Regions from separate parts of the Homo sapiens genome. Here regions 1, 2, 3 and 4 are each linked to region 5. The links come from fine-mapping of genetic effects on gene expression. A gene starts in region 5. Each other region holds a variant in brackets. All regions are shown on one strand. Distances are from middle to middle. Region 1 overlaps DCTD (dCMP deaminase). Region 2 overlaps LOC105377576 (a long non-coding RNA gene). Region 3 has its middle 32 kb from the start of DCTD. Region 4 has its middle 70 kb from the start of DCTD. Region 5 holds the start of DCTD (dCMP deaminase).

The links. PIP is the estimated chance that this variant, and not a neighbour inherited with it, causes the effect. A credible set is the group of variants that fine-mapping cannot tell apart.
Region 1: its variant is the best candidate, but not a certain one, in a credible set for the expression of DCTD in transverse colon (CEDAR, PIP 0.62).
Region 2: its variant is the best candidate, but not a certain one, in a credible set for the expression of DCTD in whole blood (TOPMed, PIP 0.53).
Region 3: its variant is the best candidate, but not a certain one, in a credible set for the expression of DCTD in whole blood (TOPMed, PIP 0.71).
Region 4: its variant is the best candidate, but not a certain one, in a credible set for the expression of DCTD in whole blood (INTERVAL, PIP 0.76).

Annotation. Positions count from the first base shown.
Region 1 is chr4:182,888,649-182,892,767 of GRCh38, reverse strand. It overlaps DCTD (dCMP deaminase), which reads left to right. Exons shown (of 6, transcript NM_001921.3): 6 at 1,291-2,677. The coding sequence ends at 1,369. Among named protein-coding and RNA genes, the nearest start is that of DCTD, 27 kb to the left of the region's middle. The variant G/A (reference allele first, on the strand shown) is at 1,570.
Region 2 is chr4:182,874,468-182,878,586 of GRCh38, reverse strand. LOC105377576 (a long non-coding RNA gene) reads left to right here. Exons shown (of 3, transcript XR_007058403.1): 2 at 827-1,076; 3 at 3,709-4,119. Among named protein-coding and RNA genes, the nearest start is that of DCTD, 41 kb to the left of the region's middle. The variant C/G (reference allele first, on the strand shown) is at 1,703.
Region 3 is chr4:182,882,906-182,887,024 of GRCh38, reverse strand. No RefSeq gene overlaps it. Among named protein-coding and RNA genes, the nearest start is that of DCTD, 32 kb to the left of the region's middle. The variant C/A (reference allele first, on the strand shown) is at 1,715.
Region 4 is chr4:182,845,414-182,849,532 of GRCh38, reverse strand. No RefSeq gene overlaps it. Among named protein-coding and RNA genes, the nearest start is that of DCTD, 70 kb to the left of the region's middle. The variant G/TTG (reference allele first, on the strand shown) is at 2,154.
Region 5 is chr4:182,915,355-182,919,473 of GRCh38, reverse strand. It overlaps DCTD (dCMP deaminase), which reads left to right and starts at 2,088. Exons shown (of 6, transcript NM_001921.3): 1 at 2,088-2,163; 2 at 3,899-4,013. The coding sequence starts at 3,906. RefSeq lists an enhancer at 124-173 and a silencer at 1,747-2,456.

The DNA.
Region 1 (4,119 bases), 27 kb after region 5:
GAAGTTTAAACATTCACAAGTTTTATAATAGGAATGCCAAACCTTGGTGAATTTTGCAAATGTAACAACTTTGGCATAGAAAATTTAGGATGAAAGTAGCCTGCCAGATTGAAACATTGGGGATTCTCTCTTTTTTTTTTGAGACGGAGTCTCGCTCTGTCACCAGGCTAGAGTGCAGTGGTGCGATCCTGGCTCACTGCAACCTCCGCTTCTCAGGTTCAAGCGGTTCTCCTGCCTCAGCCTCCCCTGCCACACCCAGCTAATTTTTTTGTACTTTCAGTAGAGACGGGGTTTCACCATGTTGGCCAGGATGACCTCATGAGCTGCCTGCCTCAGCCTCCCAAAGTGCTGGGATTACAGGTGTGAGCCACCTGGGGATTCTTTTTACAGCAACATTTTGCATTGAGATTTGAAGTCTTACAGATTTTTATGATTATCTTTGCTAAGAAATGGTTGTGAGCTATATTTTACTTGCAAGTAAGTTCAACTACCTTTGATTCATGGCAGAAAATTCCTTTGGGACTGTAAAGTTTTCCAGCGCTTCATGGTATTGGCGTTCAGCAGCAGTGGGACCATGGTCATAGGTGACGTGCCCTGGCCCCTTGTGCTGGTCATTAGGGATACAGCTCAGTGTATCTCATGAACTCAACCGTGGTGCCTTCTGAGACTTTAAATTCAAATTATTTGTATACTCTCTTGTTCAGTGATTCTTAAAAGAATTTGTTTTGTTCCCAAATGTCTTCTTTTTAATTGTTGTAGAAGAAATGAGGAACAAGTGAAAAGTTAATGAGCAAAAAAAAAAAAAAAAAAGTTGGTTTATGTTTGCATTTTTAGAATGTAATTTGAAAAATTACTCCTCACTAAAGGTAGTCGTTTTTTGCTATATATAAGCGGCAAAAGAAAATTTACTATTTTTTTGCATTAGAGAGACTCCAAGTTGGCTGCAGAAATTTTTCTAGAAAATAAGATAAATCTGATGGGAAAACTAGTAATCGGATATCATGTTGTGCAGCTGACTTGTTAGAAATCCTTTGACTCCCCAATAATTCGTGAACTCAGAGAGCTGAAAACATACAAACCACACCACCCCATGCATCTTTTTTTGTCTTAGTCTTTTCTGCTCTGTGTTTCTCTTGGTATGGTGCACTATAATTGGCTCCTATAGAGAGAAAATAGCAAGTGAATCCCAGGACATATTTTTCTCTGCACAGAAAATATGAGTTAAGCCAAAGTAAACAAATTGCTTTCACTACTCACCAGATAATAATTGTATTTTGTTTTTATTTTTAGGAAATTCATACCGAAGTGCAGCAAGATTGTCATTGACTTTGATTCAATTAACAGCAGACCGAGTCAAAAGCTTCAGTGAGTTACATCTCATTCAATCTCCAGAAGATTGGGATTATCGTCTTCTAAGAGGTTGCTAATGCCTTTCATCTTGAAGTTACACATAACTTCTTACTAGCCAGTATGGCAAAAGTAGGCATCTAAAGAATATAAAGCCTCAAATCTTCCTTACTGTCTCTCTTGTCACATGGAATCTACATGTGTTTGAACTATTGCTTTAGG[G/A]TTTAAAATAGGGGAGCCTGTGGTGGCCTGGTGCACAGGGCTAGAACGAGAGTGCCTCCCCTTCTTGTGTCCTGGCTGGCTGGGATGCTGGTGGCTCTTCAGAGGAGCATCAGCTGTCTGTCATCTGCTGCGATCCGGCAGCCTCTCTTCACTGCTACATGTGCTGGAAGGACAAATAAATAATTGTGGTTGTGTTCTTAATGGGGACGAGCAGACACACTGATCTGAACATCTGGCCCAAGTGAAGCATGGCATATAGTGCCCTTGGAAGAAAATTAGGCCTCAAATGACAGTAGCATTGAAGTGTTTGCTGCAGAGTTGAGGGAAACCCCCAGCCACCCTCCCGGAATCCGAGATAGGGTGGCACATCTGTCCTGACAGACGAGGAGTGTAACTGAACCAGGAATATTTCCTCCATTCCTGCTCTCCCACTGCACACAGGGTGGTGGCACATTATCCCTCTGGGGGGTGGGGACGCCTGTTGTTTTGGCTCAATTTGGGTTTGTTGGTCACATGGAGCTCTTCCATTTCGTTTAGCTGAATAATGAGTTGTTCCTAGAGGAGACAGCCTGTCTCTCCTTGTTGCCCCCAAAGCCCATGCCCTGCCGTGGTGGCAGCTGGGGCTGTGGATGGGAGGGGTCCCCAACATGGATGTGTTGCCCCTCCTCCGCATGCCAACGCAGTTCATGTACAAGGCCCCTCTGCAACTGGAGAGAAAATTAATTCCTATCCCGTGAGTGGATTGTGAGAAATTCCACCCACGTGGAGACAGCTTACTGCAGCACTGTTGGTGTTCGGAGCTCTTCTGTGCCCTGGCTCCATGCTTTCACCTACACAAGCATCACCTTCCTAATCACCGCGGGGCGGGGAGCGTGTGGCTGTGCCCCTTCTCTTTAATCTCATTTAATTTTTATTAAACATGCTCAGTACCTGTGTTGAGAAAAGGCTTTCTTTATCCTAAAGATTATTACCTTTTTAAAGTGCTCTTATATTTTCATGAGTTTTTATTTTGTCTCTGAGATTTTGTATTCCACATTCTAGGGTATTCTGTAATTTGGCTCCTTACCAATATTATTAAAATCTTATTAAAATCTACCCTACCAAAGCATGTACATTTTTATGTTATTATAATTATATGCTTAATTTTCTGCTCCTGTCCTTTCTGTATTGTCTCCGAAGCATATTACATATGTTTTAATGCTCAAAGAATAATTTGAGATGCCCAAGCTGTGTGCGTTCCCCAGGGTTGATGTCTGGGGCTGCTTTATGGATCAGATTTATGTAAAATGCGAAGGCAGCCGCTAGCCCTACGCTCTCTCCTGTGTACCCTGCCCCTGGTCCCAGGTGTGGCCATCTATCTGGTAGGGCCCAGGCCTCTGTCCTCCCGGAAGGCTTCAGTCCTGAGTTCTGCCCTTTGCTGACTTCTCACCTTATCCTCTTTCCAAGTCTCTCTTCTCTTCTCTCCTAAATTTCCTTCTCTTTTCTCCTCCAAACTCCTCGCCCTGTGTTTGCTCCAAAATACATAAAACAAAAGGTATGTGGAAAAAAGAATCAGTAGACTTAAAGGTAGAAAATTAGAGATTTCTCTATTGCCGCAAGTCACAAGAGTTGTGAGTCCTGTTAGGATGGAGTGTGTCATTTTCATCACATCACATTGATAAATATGTCTAGGGGCTGATAAGCCAGTAGGGCATCTAATTTATGTAATTTTGATACTATCTTATATCTTGTCTGGTTGTTACATTCAGTTTCAGTGAAAAAAAATTGACTTTTTTCTTTTTCTGTCTTTGAGGGGAGGTTGACAGGAAGGGTCCTTGCTAAAAGGGGAGTCCTGGTACTGAGGTCAGTTGTGGGTGTTTATTTGGGGGCAGATGCTGTCGCTGGGGGGTTGTGATGCTTCCACCTATGAACCGACCCTGGTCTCCTGGTGACTGGAGTGTGAGTGATTATGTCTTCGTTTCTAGGATCACTATAAGAATAGTAGAATTGTCCTATCCAGAGAATTCTGCAGATGTTCATGTTCCAGTTAATAGAGGTTTGCTTTGAACTGGTGCCTTGGGGAGAAGCTTTCCAGAAGGAGGGAGTTTTGTGCAGTCTTTTGCCTCGCAGGCATTACTAGATAATTGTGGTGAAGGGAGACTGTATCTGAGCCAATGTTGCTGCCTGTCATGGCTAATAAATGACAATAAGGAAACCATCTTTCACTGAACCGTTGGTAGAAGGACTACATTTAAAAGGCAGAATTTGTGAGTGAAATGATAGGAACTCCATTTCCCTGACACATTTTCTGCTTTCTTCCCTTTTACTCTTTTAGCAGTCTGTCCTTAAAGACTTCTGAAGCCTGACAAGACCCAGCAGTGAAAGTGATCTAATATATTAGCCATCTTTTCCTAAATTAAAAATGAAGCAAAATAAGAGAACAAGCATACAAGCTGAGCTCATGAATACAAATGTAGGCTTGCAAGCCCGGTGAGCTGAAGTTCCTGTGGCCCTGGTGTAATTTTTGATCTTCCAATGTCTGTATCTACCTGAGGATTAAAAATATTTAGG
Region 2 (4,119 bases), 41 kb after region 5:
ATGGTGGGGAGGAGACCAAGGCATTAATATAGGAACTCTGTATACTTTCCAGTCAATTTTTCCATAAAACTAAAACTGCTCTAAAAAAGGAGTCTGTTAATTTTTTAAAATCTCAAAAAGAATGTGGCTGGTGCCACAATGAACAATTTGAGTGAGAAGCTACTCAACGAGGTCAGAGGCATCAGAGAGGAAGAACACAGCAGCCTGTTTTCTTTGCTGCTCTTTACCGTTAGAAAGAACACTTTTACAACAGACTCTGTTTGAGGACAAACGCTCCACATTTTTGCCCGCTGGCAGCAGTCATAAATTATGAGATTTCTGAGGGGCACAAAACTGCAGCGGTCTAAACCAGGCAACAAAAATCAGCCAAGTCCTTATCAGGATCCCCTACAAATTCTATTGACTTTTTTGGATCTGTTTGTCCCTAGGTGTGAACTAGGGAAAAGTCAGGCGAGTCTGCCTTGCTAGTATATTTAAAAGAGGATCTTGGAGAATTTGAAAGAAAATGTGGAAGAAGAAATGACAGTGCTTGGTGAAAGTCAGCAGAAGGGCTTGATAATGGAACAGACTAAGGGTGGTGGATAGTTTTAAGGTTGAGAGAGAAATGGAATTAAAAAAAAGGGAGATATTCCTGGGGGCTTGAAGCAAGAAGCAGCAGCCGAGAGCAGCGCTGATCAGGATGTGAAGGGAGCTTGGTGCGGAGGGCAGTGCTTCCTATGAGAAAAAGTCCAGTGGTCAATCTTTTGGGAAGGAGCTGGTGGGATGAGGGGGCAGCTGGACTGACCTGAGTGCTGTTGTACTGTCTGACCATCTCCTTTGTAAACAGACGCTCCACACTCATGCTCAGAGCAGCATTATTCACAGCAGCCAGGAGGGGGACGTCGCCCAGGTGTTCCTCGGTGGATGAATGGATAAAGAAAATGTAAACACACAGTGGAATCTTACTCAGCCTTGAAAAGGAAGGAAAGTCCATCCAACACATGCTACTGCATGGACGAACTTTGGACAGTGAGCTAAGTGAAAGGAGACAGTCACAAAAGGACAAATACCAGATGATCCCACCTGCGCGAGATGATGTGAGTGTCAAATACATAGAGACAGAAAGTAGGATGGTGGGTGCGGGGCCTGGGAGAGGGGAAAATGGGAGTTGTTTAACAGATACAGACTTTCAGTTTTGTGAGATGAAAAGTTCCGGAGGTTGATTGCAAAGCAGTGTGCATATAGTTAACACTGCTTAACTGTACACTTAGAAATGGTTAAGATGGTAAATTTTATGTTATGTGTTTTTTTTGTTTTGTTTTGTTTTGTTTTTTTGAGATGGAATCTCTCTCTGTCGCCCAGGCTGGAGTGCAATGGCACGATCTCAGCTCACTGCAGCCTCCACCTCCTAGGTTCAAGCCATTCTCCTGCCTCAGCCTCCTGAGTAGCTGGGACTACAGCCTCACGCCACATGTCCGGCTAATTGTATTTTTAGTAGAGACAGGGTTTCATCATGTTGGCCAGGCTGGTCTGGAAATCCTGACCTCAAGTGATCCACCCGCCTCGGCCTCTCAAAGTGCTGGGATTGCAGACGTGAGCCACCGTGCCTGGCCTTATTATGTGTGTGGTTGTTTTTGTTTTGTTTTGTTTTTTTGTTTTCTTACCACACACACACACATACAAAACAGCTGCCCTGGCCCCTAGAGTAGTGAATTTTCACCAG[C/G]AGCCACCTAGGGGGTGAATTTTCTGATCATTTTGGGCTCAGTTCTGAAGTTCTGACTTTGAGCCCCACCTCACTCTGAATCTACAATCATTCTCTCTCCTGTCATCCTGTTGCAGTCTGCTCAGCTGCCCATAACTAAATACAAGGGACTGGGCGGCTTAAACAATAAGCCTTTACTTCTCACTGTTCTGGAGGCTGGGAAGTCTGAGATCAGGTGCTGGCATGGCCGGGTTCTGGTGAGGGCTCTCTTCCTGGCTTGTGGACGGCCGCCTTCTCACTGTGGGCTCACCTGGCAGGGAGTGGGGCCGGGAGCAACGGCTCTGGTCTCTTAGAAAGCTACTAATCCCATCGTAAGGGCGATACCCTCATGACTGCATCCAAACCTAATTACCTATAAAGGCCCTACCTCCAAAAACCCTCACATGGAGGGTTAAAGTTTTGACATATGAATTTGGGAGAGGGACACAGCTCAGTCCCTAGCACACCTTTCCTCCAACCCCAGAATTCAAAGGAGCAGCACACATTCCTTCAGCTCCGTCCATTGTAGCCTCCATTCCTCCTACGCTGTCTGAGCATCCTGGACTGTCTTGGGAACACCTGTCCTGTTTCCACCAGCTCCCTGGGATCTGCGGTGCAGACACCCCCTGAGAATGCCCACTCGGCTCCCCTGGGTCTTTAACCCAGGGACCGGCCAGATGTCTTGCTCACATGTCATAAATATGATTGCAATGTGGCTGTGCGTGGAACCCTGGCCCACTCTGGACCCTGAGCTCCAGAGACTCCGAGGCAGAGCTGCATTTCTATTATCACTTAGTAATTGGAGTTTTGCAGGCTTGGGATTACTGCTAATGGAAAGCAAATGGGCCAAGAATCAAGAAATAAGCACTTGAACAGCCAGCAGCACTCGGTAAAGCAAAGAGGCTATTATGCCACTTTATGTGGATAGAGATCATCATTTGCAGAAAGATTTGCAAAAATCTTTCCAGCCCATGGAAACAATGCCCACCAGGCCTTCTGGTGGCCCTGCCCTCCCTGCCTGGTGCAGCTAAGTGGCCGCCCAGGTAGGGAGCCTCACCTGCAGCACAAATTACCACCCGAAGCCAGCCTCTCCCGCTTGGCAGGAGCAAGGTTTGATCTTGCCTTCGCTGCCTGCTTTCTCGCTGGTACACAGAGCTCAGAGAAGCTCTTGGAACCAAAAGCCCTCCCACACACCCTGCCTCAGACTTCCTCGGCCTTCTCACCAGCCCCAGCCCAGAGAACAGGCGGTGATAGGGCTGCCATGAGCTGCTGTGACGGAAAGCTCGGAACAGTGGCTCTTGACTCAAGGAGAGAGAAGTGGCTGTAAAGAGTGACGTTTCCCGGGGTTTGCTGACCCCTGGTCTCCGGGTTAGTCTTGCCCTTTCTCCTCTGTGGGGTTGTGTCACCATCATACATTTACATGAGGGTCCTTTTCTCCATAGATCACGCCACCCCCTTCCCAGTGGCTAAAAGGCAATTTAATATGCAGAAGCTCTGCTAGAACAGCATTAGGTTATGACATGAGGAAATGGAAAAAAAACATCTAAGCCCAAACTCTGCCCTTCAGCCGTCCTCCTGAGACAGCGTGCTGCTGTCAGCCAAGGACAGAGTGGGCACGCTGGGGTTCTTGGGCTCAGCAAACAACAGGAAAACTGAGGCAACTTCAGCTGCTTACAAGAGAGAGACACAAGATTCACATGAGTTCCTAAGTTCAAGTTGGCTGAGGGGCTCAAGGGACTCACCGCGTCCCTCCCTCACTCCGGCAGATGCTGGGACGCTTCCAGACAGCCCCGGACATAGGGGGAGAGGGAGAGGCATGGAAACCCTCTTACCTTAGCCCCTCAGAAAGGTGCCTCCACTCATTGGTGACTCCCTCACTTAGCCATTAAATGTCACTACAGCCCGTTCGCACAGGGGAGAGAATCTACATCTAGCAGTAAAAAAAGGTGATGAAATGAAAGAAGTTGTGAAATGACATTTTTTTCCAGCAGGTTTGTCATATCTCCTGCATGGAGGAAAATTGCTTTCTGTAAATCTTGGTCCAACAGAACAAAACACCTATTTCTTTCCAGTTGGGAGGACAGCCATTCTCATCGGTATAATGAACGTATTGTAAGCTGTGACTTTTACAAAGTCTGAGGGAAACCAATCTGCAATCTTGACAGATACGATCTTTCCAGATGCACTGTTCGTTTACGGCGGCAAGAGAGCTCAATTAATTTCTGAGGGAGGACGGCAGGATGCGACCCCTTGTGCGTGGCCTAGGAGGAACTGTCCCTGTGTGAATTTATGTTCTGGTAATTTAAAAAGATTTATATTAAGCTTTTCTTTCATTTTGAGAGTAGATTAAAATTCTAATGGAAACCATTTGTATGCATTTGTTGAATTGAAGAGTATTT
Region 3 (4,119 bases), 32 kb after region 5:
CCCATCTTCTGCAGCCATCCTTTCCTGAATGTGCAGTGTGCCTCGCCAACCTGGCCCCGTCTGCCTCAGCCACCCAGCGGCCTTCCTCCCTGCACCAGTCACCTACCTTGAAGGATTTTTCTTTTTTAAAAATCAACATTTTTTTTCCTTCTTTTTTTTGAAACAGGGTCTCACTCTGTCGCTCAGGCTAGAGGGCAGTGGCGTGATCATATCTCACTGCAGCCTCAACCTCCTGGGCTCAAGTGATCCACCCACCTCAGCCTCCCAAGTAGCAGGAACTATGGACATGCATCTCCACACTAATTCCCTGGCTAATTGTTATTTATTTTTTATTTTTTGTAGAGACGGGATCTCACTGTGTTGCCCAAGCTGGTCTCAAACTCCTGGGCTCATGTGATCCTCCTGCTTTGGCCTCCCAAAGCGCTGGGATTGCAGGCGTGAGCCACTTTGCATGGCCTAAACCCAGCATTTTTAAGAGCCTCTTCCTGTGCTCCCTTTGACCATCCACAGTTTCCATGCATGTTTCAACACTGAGTTGGATCCCGCCCTCTCTGTAAAGTCTCCCCAGACCTTCCTGAGCTTGAAGTGATTTTTTCTTCTTTGAAATCCTGCAGCAGTTATTGTCAGCAACTGTCTTTCTGGCAATGAATCGTGTACTGTTTTATGATATCTCTTCTACTGTCTAGAACTGTTACTGAAACATGTCATTTAACTTTTCATATGTATCTTGTCCTGCTCTAACGAGGTTGGAAACTCCACAGAGCGCATGTGGCATCCTGTGTATCTTGGTGCCTGGCTACCATTTCTCTCCATGTCTGCACGGGACCCTATGCAGAGGGGCTTCATACACATTTTTAATATTTCCACTTAAAAGTTATAAACTTGATTGCACTTTAATTCAGTGAGGTAGCTGAGCAGGAGCCAACCTCCTAAATTATTTTTTCCATGCTGATTTCTTTGTGAATGGCTTGAAAAAAATTGTCATCTGGAATGTAAGAGAAAGAAATCTTCCTGTTAGCAGCCAGGGCTAATGGGCACATTTATCTTTAAGAGAGACAGGAGATTACTGTTTAAATGTCTTATTTTTGACTTCTGCGTTTCAGTTAAAGCATTCTTATATATGGGTTTGAATGAGGAATTTGGCAATAACAGACACTCTTGGCAGAACACCCAGAGACGATGTTTCCACTGAAACCCATCCGATTAGTGGATTTCTTGACCTTTCCAGGTCTTAAATCACTGTTGAATGCTTTCTGTTGTAGGAGTTCTGTATGTTAACTTTTGTTAATGAAAACTGTTAGAAACTTAAACATGCCATTTGGTCCAGGTTTTAAATGGGCATTCTGTTCTGGAATTGCTTCCTCTGCAGGGGTGGGCATGGTGTGCAGCCTTTTGATTTATTCTGCCTTTCCCCAGCCTCTGAATAAGTAGGCATTAGTAATGCATGTAGCTGTAAGTAACAGGCCCCTGACTCTCAGTGACTAAACAAGTAGCATATTTTTCCTCACATAACAAGTACGGTGGTAAGCATTTGCTGGAGTTGGGTCAGCTGGTCCATGATGTCTGCAAAGATCTAGGTTTTTTTCTTTATTTCTGTCTTTTGCTTTATATCTTCAGGCTTGTTTTGTCAAAAACTTCAGGCATCCCATTCACACTAAATGCAAGAAGGAGATGGGTGGCAGAGTGGGGATGAGGCTTCTCTGCTCTTGGCTAT[C/A]CCTTTGATCAGAAAAGCAGAAACTTTCTCAGAAGCCCCAGCAAGTATTCTCTTCCATCCCTTGGGCCATAGCCAGTCACATGGCCACCCCTAGCTGCAAGGGAGGCTGACAGGGTCCTTGGCATTCCACATTCGATAGAGGAGGCTGCAGGGGAGAAAGAGGCTAGTAACTGCTGTCATTCATGCTGTTGGCCACAACATACCCCTTGCTTGGAAAATTGTATAACAGTTTAATTGTGTAATTTCTACTCAGTGGTTCTTCGCATCCTCAGTGTTAAAGTTGTTGTTGAGTTGAAAAATGATACTTGCTTCATAGGAATTTTGTGACCTTCACGTTGACTTTCAAACTCCTGTGCAGGAAATCTTAGTTTCTTAGCTGGTCACAGCTATGAAAGAGTGATATATATACATAGGCACGCATACCACTTGAGGGTCAGTTACAACATGGTCTCTGGCCCCTAAATACTCAGCGTTTGTTTCCTAAGAATAGGGACATTTTCATATCCAGTATAGTTAAGTATAGTTATTGACAATAATATGTTTAACATGGTTAGAATATTTTAATTTATTATTCCTATCCCAATTTTGTCAGTTGACCCAATACGTTTCTTTCTGGTGTTTTCCATATGGGATACAGTCTAGAGTTTGGTATTGCATTTTGTTGTCATGTCTCGTTAGCCCCTTTAATCTGGAACATTCCCTGTGCTACTGCTTCTTCTGGAGCCTCTTTCTCCTGCTGCCTCATGCTAACATTTTTTTTAAACATTTTGGTCTCAGGGCCCCTTTACACTCTTAAAAATTACTGAGGACCCCAAAGAAACTTTAGTTTCATGGGTTATATTTATCAATATTTACATTAGAAATTAAAACTGAGAAATTTAAAAAATATTTTAATTCATTTAAAATACCAATAGTAAACCCTTTACATGTTAACATAAATAACATACTTTTACGAAAGAATAACTATTTTCCAGAACAACAAAAAATGTTTAATGAAAAAAGCAGCATCGTGTTACATTTTTGCAACTGTTTTTCGTGTCTGGCTTAATAGAAAACAGCTGGATTCTCATTTCTGTGTGTTTTCTATCTGTTGCAGTAAGTTGTTTTGGCTGAAATATGTGGAGAAAATCCAGCCAAACCCAGATATATAGTTGGAAAGGGGAGGCATATTTTAATAGCATTTTCAGAAAATTGTGGATAGTCTTTGATACCACACCACAATTTGATATATGAAAGTTTCTTAAAAGCTAGTTGCAATGTGAAATCTGAAATCATATTAATGAGTATTTCCTATTATCTTACATTAAAATCATTTGGTCTATCTTGTATTTTGAATTGATGTTTAACCCATGCATGATACTATTGGTCATTTGGAAACTACCAGTTCATTGAATGATGCAGATCTTTCAAGACTTGACACATTTCATTATACAACGTCCCCAAATCACTTTTGTAAACATCACCACTAATTTGAGAAAAATCTCTCTCTTTAAGTACTGGGAAGCTGTCAAGTTCACAGTGACCGATAACAAGTTTTCCAAAATTCGGATTTTATCTTGAAAGCGTGAATTTTATCATTTGATCACTTCATTTCCCTCAAAGTGATAAATAGCTTACTTTGTTCATTTTCAAGAAAATGTCTGTCATGTCCCCAAATCTGAGTATCCACAGTCACTCTTTCTTTGAAGTAAAAATGGCATCCCATGAACAAAGGGGCTAGTTGAGCTTGCAACTCAAACAGGAAGAGCGTGGCACTCTTCCTAAGGACAACGTGCAGAGGTGCTTCATGCACGCTTCCCATCTCACCCAGGAAGTGTGAAAAAGATGACTCGTCAACGTGGAGGTTCCCTACAAGTAATACTTTTTCCTGCCGGCATCGCTGAGGACATCTTAAGGGAAATGGTCTTTTTACTTCTCTGCCTTTGTTTTCTTCCCTGAGCATGTGGTGGTGAAGAGTGCACGTGGGCGCCACTGCCTCTGATTCCTTCACCCTCACTTTTCCTCACCATTGCTTTGGTTGCATAGTGCAAATGTCCACACAGTGAAAAAAGGCAAAAAACATCTTAGTATTATAATGAAGATCATTTTGACAGGGTAGACCCCATGAAAGAATCTGTAGGCTCATGCTTTGAGGTGCCAGCTGCCTTAGATGACAGTACGGTTATAGCCCGAAAGGCACTTTGGAAGTGTCTGTTCGCTGTTGACTTTGTTCGTTCGTTCTCTTTCTTTCTTTCTTTCTTTCTTTCTTTCTTTCTTTCTTTCTTTCTGTCTGTCTGTCTGTCTGTCTGTCTGTCTTTCTTTCTTTCTTTCTCTTTTTCTTTCTTTTTTTTTCTCTGTCTCTCTCTCTCTCTCTTTCTTTCTTTCTTTTTGACAGAGCTTCACTCTTGTCACCCAGGCTGGAGTGC
Region 4 (4,119 bases), 70 kb after region 5:
AGATTTAGATATTGCTGTGATTTTTATGAAGTAAATTCAAATGCTTTTAGCAGGGATGGGTCTGTTCCAGTTTGTCACAGTCACCACCTGCAGCCACAGAGCAGGCCATGGTGACTGTCCCCATTGTCACTGTTTTAGTGATGTTTGGCCTTGGGTGTTGAGATTCTAACCTGTCAAGGCTTGGAGGTGGAGAGTGCCCCTCAGGTCTGGAGAGGGAGGGTGTGGGAGAGGCGCCAGAAGGACACCAGCAGGACTGTGGGGATGGCAGGAATCTGCTCCTACCCTCGGGAAGGTAACAGAGACCCTGTGTGCTACGCGTGGCCTTGGCAGCCTCTGGGAAGGCTTTGTGGGTGACTTGAGCCTGGGGGACAGGACTCGGGAGCAGAGGAGCCACAAGACTTGGGCTTGTCCATGAGTTTCCCTGAACCCCAGGGGGCTAAAGACCAAAAGTCTCCTCCGAGTTTCCTCGATTGCACGAATGCTGGAGGGGCTTTTACAGACCCGAAGAAGGTGTCTGGGGCCCAGAAAAATGACTGAGATAGGAAAGATGAGAGGGGCCCAGCCAGATCTATTTATATGTGGTTTATTGATTTTTATCTTATTTTTATCTATATATTTATCGTATAATATATAGATTATTATATACAATGTATTTATTACATAATATAGAATATGTTTATTATAACATCGTATTTTCTTACTTAGAATATAATAATGTATTATAGAATAAATCTATAAATATCACTAAATAATATATTTTTAAATTTTATGATATAATTCCTCACAGGATTTTTACCATGGGGAATTCTGAATGAGCATGGAAGCAAATAGTGGAAGGTGGCCAGATGCAGTGGCTCACGCCTGTAATCCCAGCACTTTGGGAGGCCAGGGCAGGAGGATTGCTTGAGCCCAGAAGTTCAAGACCAGCCTGGGCAACATAGTGAGACCCTATCTCTTAAAAAAAAAAAACAAAAAACTTAACTGGGCATGGTGACCCGTGCCTGTGGTCCCAGCTACTCAGGAGGCTGAGGCTGGAGGATCACTTGAGTCCAGGAGGTCTGGGCTGCAGTGAGCTGTGATTGCACCTCTGCACTCCAGCCTGGGCAACAGAGTGAGACCCTGTCTCAAAAAACCAAACCAAACCAAACAAACAAAAACACTGGGACGATCTGTTCTCAGCACACCGTGACGAAGGGAACCCCTCGCCCTCGGCCCTACCCTTCAGGCAAAGCATGGCCGGGGCCTCCCGGGCTCCCCACGTTCATGGCCCTTTCCTCTGGTGCATTGATGGTGGAATCTCCTCTTCTGTCTTGGAAAAGCCAGGGCAGGTTCCTCCCTGAGCTCCTGGGCGTGGGGTGGAAGGGGCAGTGCCACAGCGGCCTCCTGTCCTTGCCCACACCCAGGCTGTGGAGGCGCAGGAGTGCTGAACGCCACGCAGTCCCCGGCTTGGCCAGCCTCGGACCAGTGAGGTCTCCAAGCAAAAACCTAGAGCTTTGGCGAAACGTAAGCAATTTCTTTTGAGCAAATTCCTCCAGCTGTCTGTCCTTCGTCTCTAAGCTGTGAGATCAGGAACCTTTTCTTTGTTGTTCACCTCTTGCTGGGCGGTTAAGAACAGACCTAAGCCAACTTGTCCATAGTCTGGAAGATATCGCCAGCCTCCGACAATGGCGGGGAATTTCGCCTTCCCCACTCAGCCTCCCTGCCAGGTGGTGTGTATGATGAAAGCTAGTCTCTAGCCGATTGCTGACAAATGTACAGGTCGCAGCAGGCACAACACAAATCCACGCCTTTTACCTCTGGGCTTGGGGAAGCCCCTCTGCTCTCTGCCCTTCTGGAAAGATTCTCTGTGAGACACAAGTGAGAATATTCTGACAGCAGGATCAAGTTACCTTCTAAATGAATCCCGCAACACATGCTCTGCTGAGTGGCTCTGGGGCAGGGAGGAGAGGTATACCCAGATGCAGTCAGGATTCTAGACCTACGTCTTTCTCCCAAAGGTGAGAGTCTAGGGGCTTACAACTTCCACATCCCGTTCAAGCAAGAGCAGAGGACTTGCTTCTAGGCCACCAAGTGTCTCCAACACCACCAATTTCTTCCTTTCTTTCTTTTTCTTTCTTTCTTTTTTCTTTCTTTCTTTCTTTTTTTTTTTTTTT[G/TTG]AGACGGAGTTTCGCTGTTGTTGCCCAACTGGAATGCAATGGCATGATCTCAGCTCACTGCAACCTCCACCTCTCGGGTTCAAGTGATTCTCCTCCCCCAGCCTCCTGACTACCTGGGATTACAGGCGCGTACCATCACGCCTGGCTAATTTTTTGTGAAACGGGGTTTCACCATTAGCCAGGCTGGTCTCGAACTCTAGACCTCAGGTGATCCGCCCACCTCGGCCTCCCAAAGTGCTGGGATTACAAGCGTGAGCCAGCACGCTTGGCCACCACCACCAGTTTCACAAGGGAAAGAGAATTGCTAACACCCCAATACCAATGAAGGAAGCCTGTGGTACAGATTTAACTAAAACACGGAGCCTCTGCCCCTTCCTAGAGACTGGATTGGAGTTAATTCTCACACACACACACACACACACACACACACACACACACACACGATCTGTACTGTTTTTACTGATCTGTCTTAACATAAATTATGTGCACTCCAACGCCAGCACTGTGCCTAACAGATATTTGTTGAACGAACCAACATAATTTCCATTTCTTGAAATCAGGAAACTGTGTCAGAGGGCTGGGAGGAAAGAGCAGGCCATGGGGTGTGCTGGTCTGTGGAGCAGGTGACAAGGGGATCTGTGGGCAGGACAGGCTGGCATGATGATAAGTCGCCCTCACTGGTGGAAAGAACGCTAATTCCGAAGAGGCCAAGAACAGATTTAGCCTCCATGGAGGACATTTAGGGAAATATCTGGAACCCCCTCCTCACTTCCCACGGCTCTCCTTTGGGGGATCTTTCCTCAGCTCCTGGACAGGGTCTTGTCACCCTGCTGCTTAGACAGGCTGAGTGGCCCTTATCTGAAATGCTTGGGACCAGAAGTGTTCCAGATTTTGGATTTCGAGATCTTTGTGTTACACTTACCTGTGGAACATATGAAAATCTGAAAAGCTCCATTGAGCACACAAGATTTGGATTGGGGAGCATTTTTGGATTTCGGATTTTGGATTTTTGGATTTAGGGAAGCTCAGTCCGCAAAAGCTGGTGTTGATAAAATAAGAAGTTGAGGGACTCCAAAGAGTTGAAGCGTCTGGAGTGTGCAGGGTGAATGGAAGAGTCCCTGAATGAGGTGGAGAGGGTGGCGGGCCAGGCTGGGGAGGGACTTGCCAGCCCGTGGTGAGGATCTGGAAGCTCCCTGTGGCGGACCGACTCGTGTCCCCCCAGACAGACATGCTATGTCTTGACTCCCTGTACCCCAGAATATGAATTTATTAGGAAATAGAGTCTTTGCAGATGTAATCAAGTGATTATTAGGGTGGGCCTTAATCCAATGTTACTAAAGTCCTTATAAAAAGGGGGAAGTTTGGACACAGAAAAGTGGAGGCTTTGGAAAGAGTCACAGTGGGAAGATGGCCCTATGAAGACTGGGGTGATGATGCCACCAGCCAAGAAAGGTCTGGGCTGCCAGGAGCTGGAAGAGGCAAGGAAGGGCGCTTGTCCTACAGCTTTCTAAGGAGGCGTGGCCCTGCTGACACCTGGATTTCCAACTCTGCACCTCCAGGGCTGAGAGACGGCTCATTTCTACTGTTTCCAAGCCACCCAGGGTGCAGCTCTGTGTTAGGGCAGCCCTAGGAAATAGACTCCCTGTCACACCTGTAATTCCAGCACTTTGGGGGGCTGAGGCGAGCGGATCACCTGTGATCAGGAGTTCAAGACCAGCCTGGCCAGCTGATGAAACCCCGTCTCTATTAAAAAAATACAAAAAAATAGCCAGGTGTGGTGGCATGCGCCTGTAGTCCCAGCTACTTGGGGGGCTGAGGCAAGAGAATCTTTACAATCCAGGAGGTGGAGGCTGCAGTGAGCTGAGATCATGCCGTTTCATTCCAGCCTTGCTCTGTCTCAAAAAAAAAAAAAAAAAAAAAAGAAAGAAAAGAAAAGAAAGAAAAAGAAATACAGTCTCTGCGGACA
Region 5 (4,119 bases):
TAGGAATGTGCTGATTGGGTTCAACCTGTGTGAGGCCCTCAAGGAAGGCCAATCTAGATAGGGCTGAACACATACCTAACCTCTGTATCTGTAGTAGGTGGAGAAAGATCCTCAATTATAAGCCCAAATACAAGGTATTAGCAAGAGAGATTTAACACCTACAGTCACACTTGGAGTTACAAGGTGTTAATGAGAAAGACATACCAAGGAATATATTTCTCCCCCCTTTGGCCGCGTGGCTTCACTATTGGTGTACAATATTTGAAACCTCAAGTTGTGAAACTCTGAACCAGGAGGGTTTCCTGTATTATGAATGATGTCATCTTTAAGATGAGGGACTTTCAGTGAAATGCGGGAACATTCAGGGTAATGTGTTTTCAGCAAGCAGGAGCTTGAATTTATGGCAGAGGGGAGTGTGTGAGTTGACCAAAATGGAGAGTGATGAGAAGTAACTAAATTATGTATGACAGTCTTTACCGAGCAGAGGAAGGAAGAAAGCTTAATGATGTTGTGGTTGAAGGAGCAGCAGCAATTGGTGATGTATGGGTTGTAGGTTGGTAAGAAGAGAAATGGATCTATGAAGACCCAAAGACTGTAGATGAGTGTGACAAAGACCAAGCGGTGGATTTGGGAGGAGGAGGGAAACCAGGGGCTCGGGATATATGACACATTTTAGCGGCAACAAGACAGCCATGTAAAGTCAACTTGAAATTAAAAATCATCATCTTAATCTATGTGGCTCTTTCAAGCCTGAGTCTTATCAAGGCAAAAAAAAAAAAAAAAAAATCTATAGTTAACGATGAAGTATTTCTCCCTTTTGCTTTCCCGGCATCCACCAAGAGCAGTACATAATTTAATTATTGAATCTACAAGCTGGACCATGAGATGAAGAATGATGTGTCTGCTGTAGTGAGAAATTAGATAGAACCAACTGTTTACTCTCATCATTCTTCCTCCGTTAGGCTAAATTAATATAGTTAACAAGCTTTTGTTTGGAATAGCAGTTCAAATCTGGGATGTGCAGATCAGAACTGGCGATTATTACAGTAGCTGTTATTTATGGAGTGCTGACAGTCCCCTCAAGTCCCATGAATGAAACAGAAAGGGGTTCTTCTGTCATTCTCTGTGCTAGAACCACTGTAAGGGGCTAGACGTCTGCACAGGGTAACGAAGTTCATGAAAACCAGATTAAGTTGCTTGGGGCATACGACTCCAGAAATGTCACTGATGGTCTTTCCTATTGCCCTGTTTTTCTCATCTTTGAAACAACTGCAACAAAATGTGCACTATATAAGTGGGCGAGCATTACCAGGAGGTAACATGCAGGTGGGGTGCCTGTGCGGTGATACGGGTCGAGCAGGGCGCGGCAGGCTTTAGCAAACACCTCAGGCCCTTCCGCACAATTTGAGCAGAAACTGAAAGCCTGTCAGGCGCAGCCAAATGCAAATCTAGCTTCGAGGCACTGAGCCTCGAGGCACAGCGCCCCCGCCGGACCCAGTTCCCTGCCCCATCCAGTGTGTGAAACTGTGACCCAGCCACCGGCCAAGGGTCCCCACGGGGACGCTGCGACACAGCGGGCTCACTCCAGAGACCCAAACCAGGTCTCCCCACCTCCCGCCCCGCCAGTTTCACGGCACTAGATTCTTGGGGTCGTCTTTTAATCACAATCTCCATAGCCGTGTCTCTAAGCAGTTGATGGAACACGGATGGTGGGGAAAACCTCACCACCGCCACCACCACCAAACCAAGCAGCCCCCGACGGTCGTGCAGTCAGGCCCGGGAGCGCCCAACTCGCGGCCACCCAGCGCCACGCGTGACCCGGGCAGCGGGGCGACCTCGGGGCGGTCTGGCACCCGGGAAGTAGTTTGTGCTCGGGCTCTGAACACCGCCGGCCGGACCGCGGGCTGCGTCACGGGGACCGGGAGGCGTACGGCGACGCGGAGCAGCGCCTTTGCGGCGTGCGACCCGCCCCCGCCGTCCCTCCCTCCCTCCCCTCAGGGCTTCGGGCCCCCGGGGCCAGCCGCCGTCCTGCGAACGCGCGGCGCCCGGGCCGCTGCCCCCTTCCGGCCCCGCGGCGGCCCCGCCTCCTCCCCCGACTTCCTTCCCTGAGCACGGCGGCGGCGGGGACGAGCACCGGCCTGCGCGCGGAGCCGGCACCGGATGGTGGGCGGGGGCCAGCCGTGCGGGTACGCGGCCCGCGCGCCCCTAGCCACCGCCGCGTGGCACCGTCCCGAGCGCGTGGCGCGGGGCGCTGGCTGCCGGGCGGGGGCCTGGGGCCGCGGACGCTGGGGGCGCCTCGGCCGCGCTCAGCCTTTAGATCGGAGAATGCGGGCGGGGTGGGGGCGCTCGGGGTCCCCGCAGTCACTCCAGGGTCGATTTCTCGGCGGGCGCCGCGGCCTGTGCGAGGCCGGGCCCCTTGGAGTGCCCCGGGAGGTGGTGCTGGGCGTCTGAACACCACATCCCTTCCTGCGCCCGTGTGTGGGTTGGGAATGCCGGGTGTAGGCCCTGGATCAGAGCTGACGGGGTTGCGAGCGGCGTGGGGTGTGCCTGGGACGGTGACCGGATGTGTCTTCCTGAATCGTTGTATTCGAGCTCCAGTTCTCTCTGTTTCTACAGCTGGGCCTCAGTCCTCACAGGGCTCTAGTGGGCGTTCAGCCACACCAGGAGAAGGCGCCCAGGGGATTAACAGGACCCTTCCCTCTCCTGCTCTTCCCTCGCCCCCCATGGCTCCCCCTCCCTCCTATTTAGTAGGTACTTCTCCAGCACCCCACAGCGATGATGGATGCTGGCCCTAAAGCCAGGTGGGAAACCAGGCTGATTCAGCACCTGTCTTTTCCTGTTAGGGGGGTTGCCAGGCCTCTCAGATGTGGGGCAGCGTAATCAGTGGGTGACCGTGGTTCCCAGCACCCACTCTCCACTGCATCCTTGTCTTAGGCACTGCCGCCCTGCACTGTAGCAGATGCCTAAATAAAGTGTGGAGCCTGAAGCAGAAGTTTTGGGAGATGCTTGCCTTCCTTTAGACCACATTCCTCGCCTTTCTCAAGATTTCTCCGTGGTACCCACCCCGTTTTTGTGTTGTCTTCCTTCCTTGCCCTTGTTTCATTCCTTTTGAAAGCGACCACTCCCCTGAAGTCCTAGGACCCCCTTCGTGGGCTCTCCCTGCCGTAGACAGTCTCTGCTTGCCCCTGGTAAACTACGTTCCAAAAACCTTGCTTTAGGAGTAGCACTTGACGTTTTTCATAGTTTCTTCTCATGTAATTCATTACTCGGAGTTGATAACTTCTGTCCCATCTGGATTATTGAGGAGAAAGGGAAGGGAAAAATTATCTGGTTAATATCAGAGTTGGGAAGGCTTCAGATGTTTTCTTTGAATCCGTCTGGCATGGATGATAATCCTGTGTGGTTTAGGTTAAGTTACCTAAGTTCTCTGAGTCTGTGTAAGATGGGATGGCACTGTCTACCTTAGCTAGGAGTAAGGCTTGAGTGACATGATGTGTATAAACTTTAACAATGTCTGGAATCTATAGATGATCAATAAATATTTCTTTTTTCCACCCTCCTCCTGTGCTGACTCCGCTTTGTAAGGGAGACAGGTAAAGGACACAACAATTTGTAGGCTGGCATAAAAAATCCTATGAGAAAGCAGTAAATAGATGAAATATTTGGGAACGTGAAGCTATAGGTTTCAAATTCAAACTTCTGAAATAGGAAATTTCTTAAGTTTTTACTTAAGACCAGAGACTGTTTAGGGCCCATGTGCTGTGATTTCTGATTGATAAATGTAGCTGAAGTTGCCCATGTTTAGAGATTTAAAGGTTCAGTGTGGTTGGGTTGAACTGGAAAACAGACTTACTAAAATGCTTCTCTCAACTTCTGTTTTGTCATGTTTTTCTTCTAGACCCAACATGAGTGAAGTTTCCTGCAAGAAACGGGACGACTATTTGGAATGGCCAGAGTATTTTATGGCTGTGGCCTTCTTATCAGCACAGAGAAGCAAAGATCCAAATTCCCAGGTAAATGAATTTCACGGGAGAATGCTTAGATACTCACAGGCAAAGAGATTACTGCACATGAGCAGAAAGGGGAGACTCAGTGGACGCCTGTCAACTTAAAAGTGCA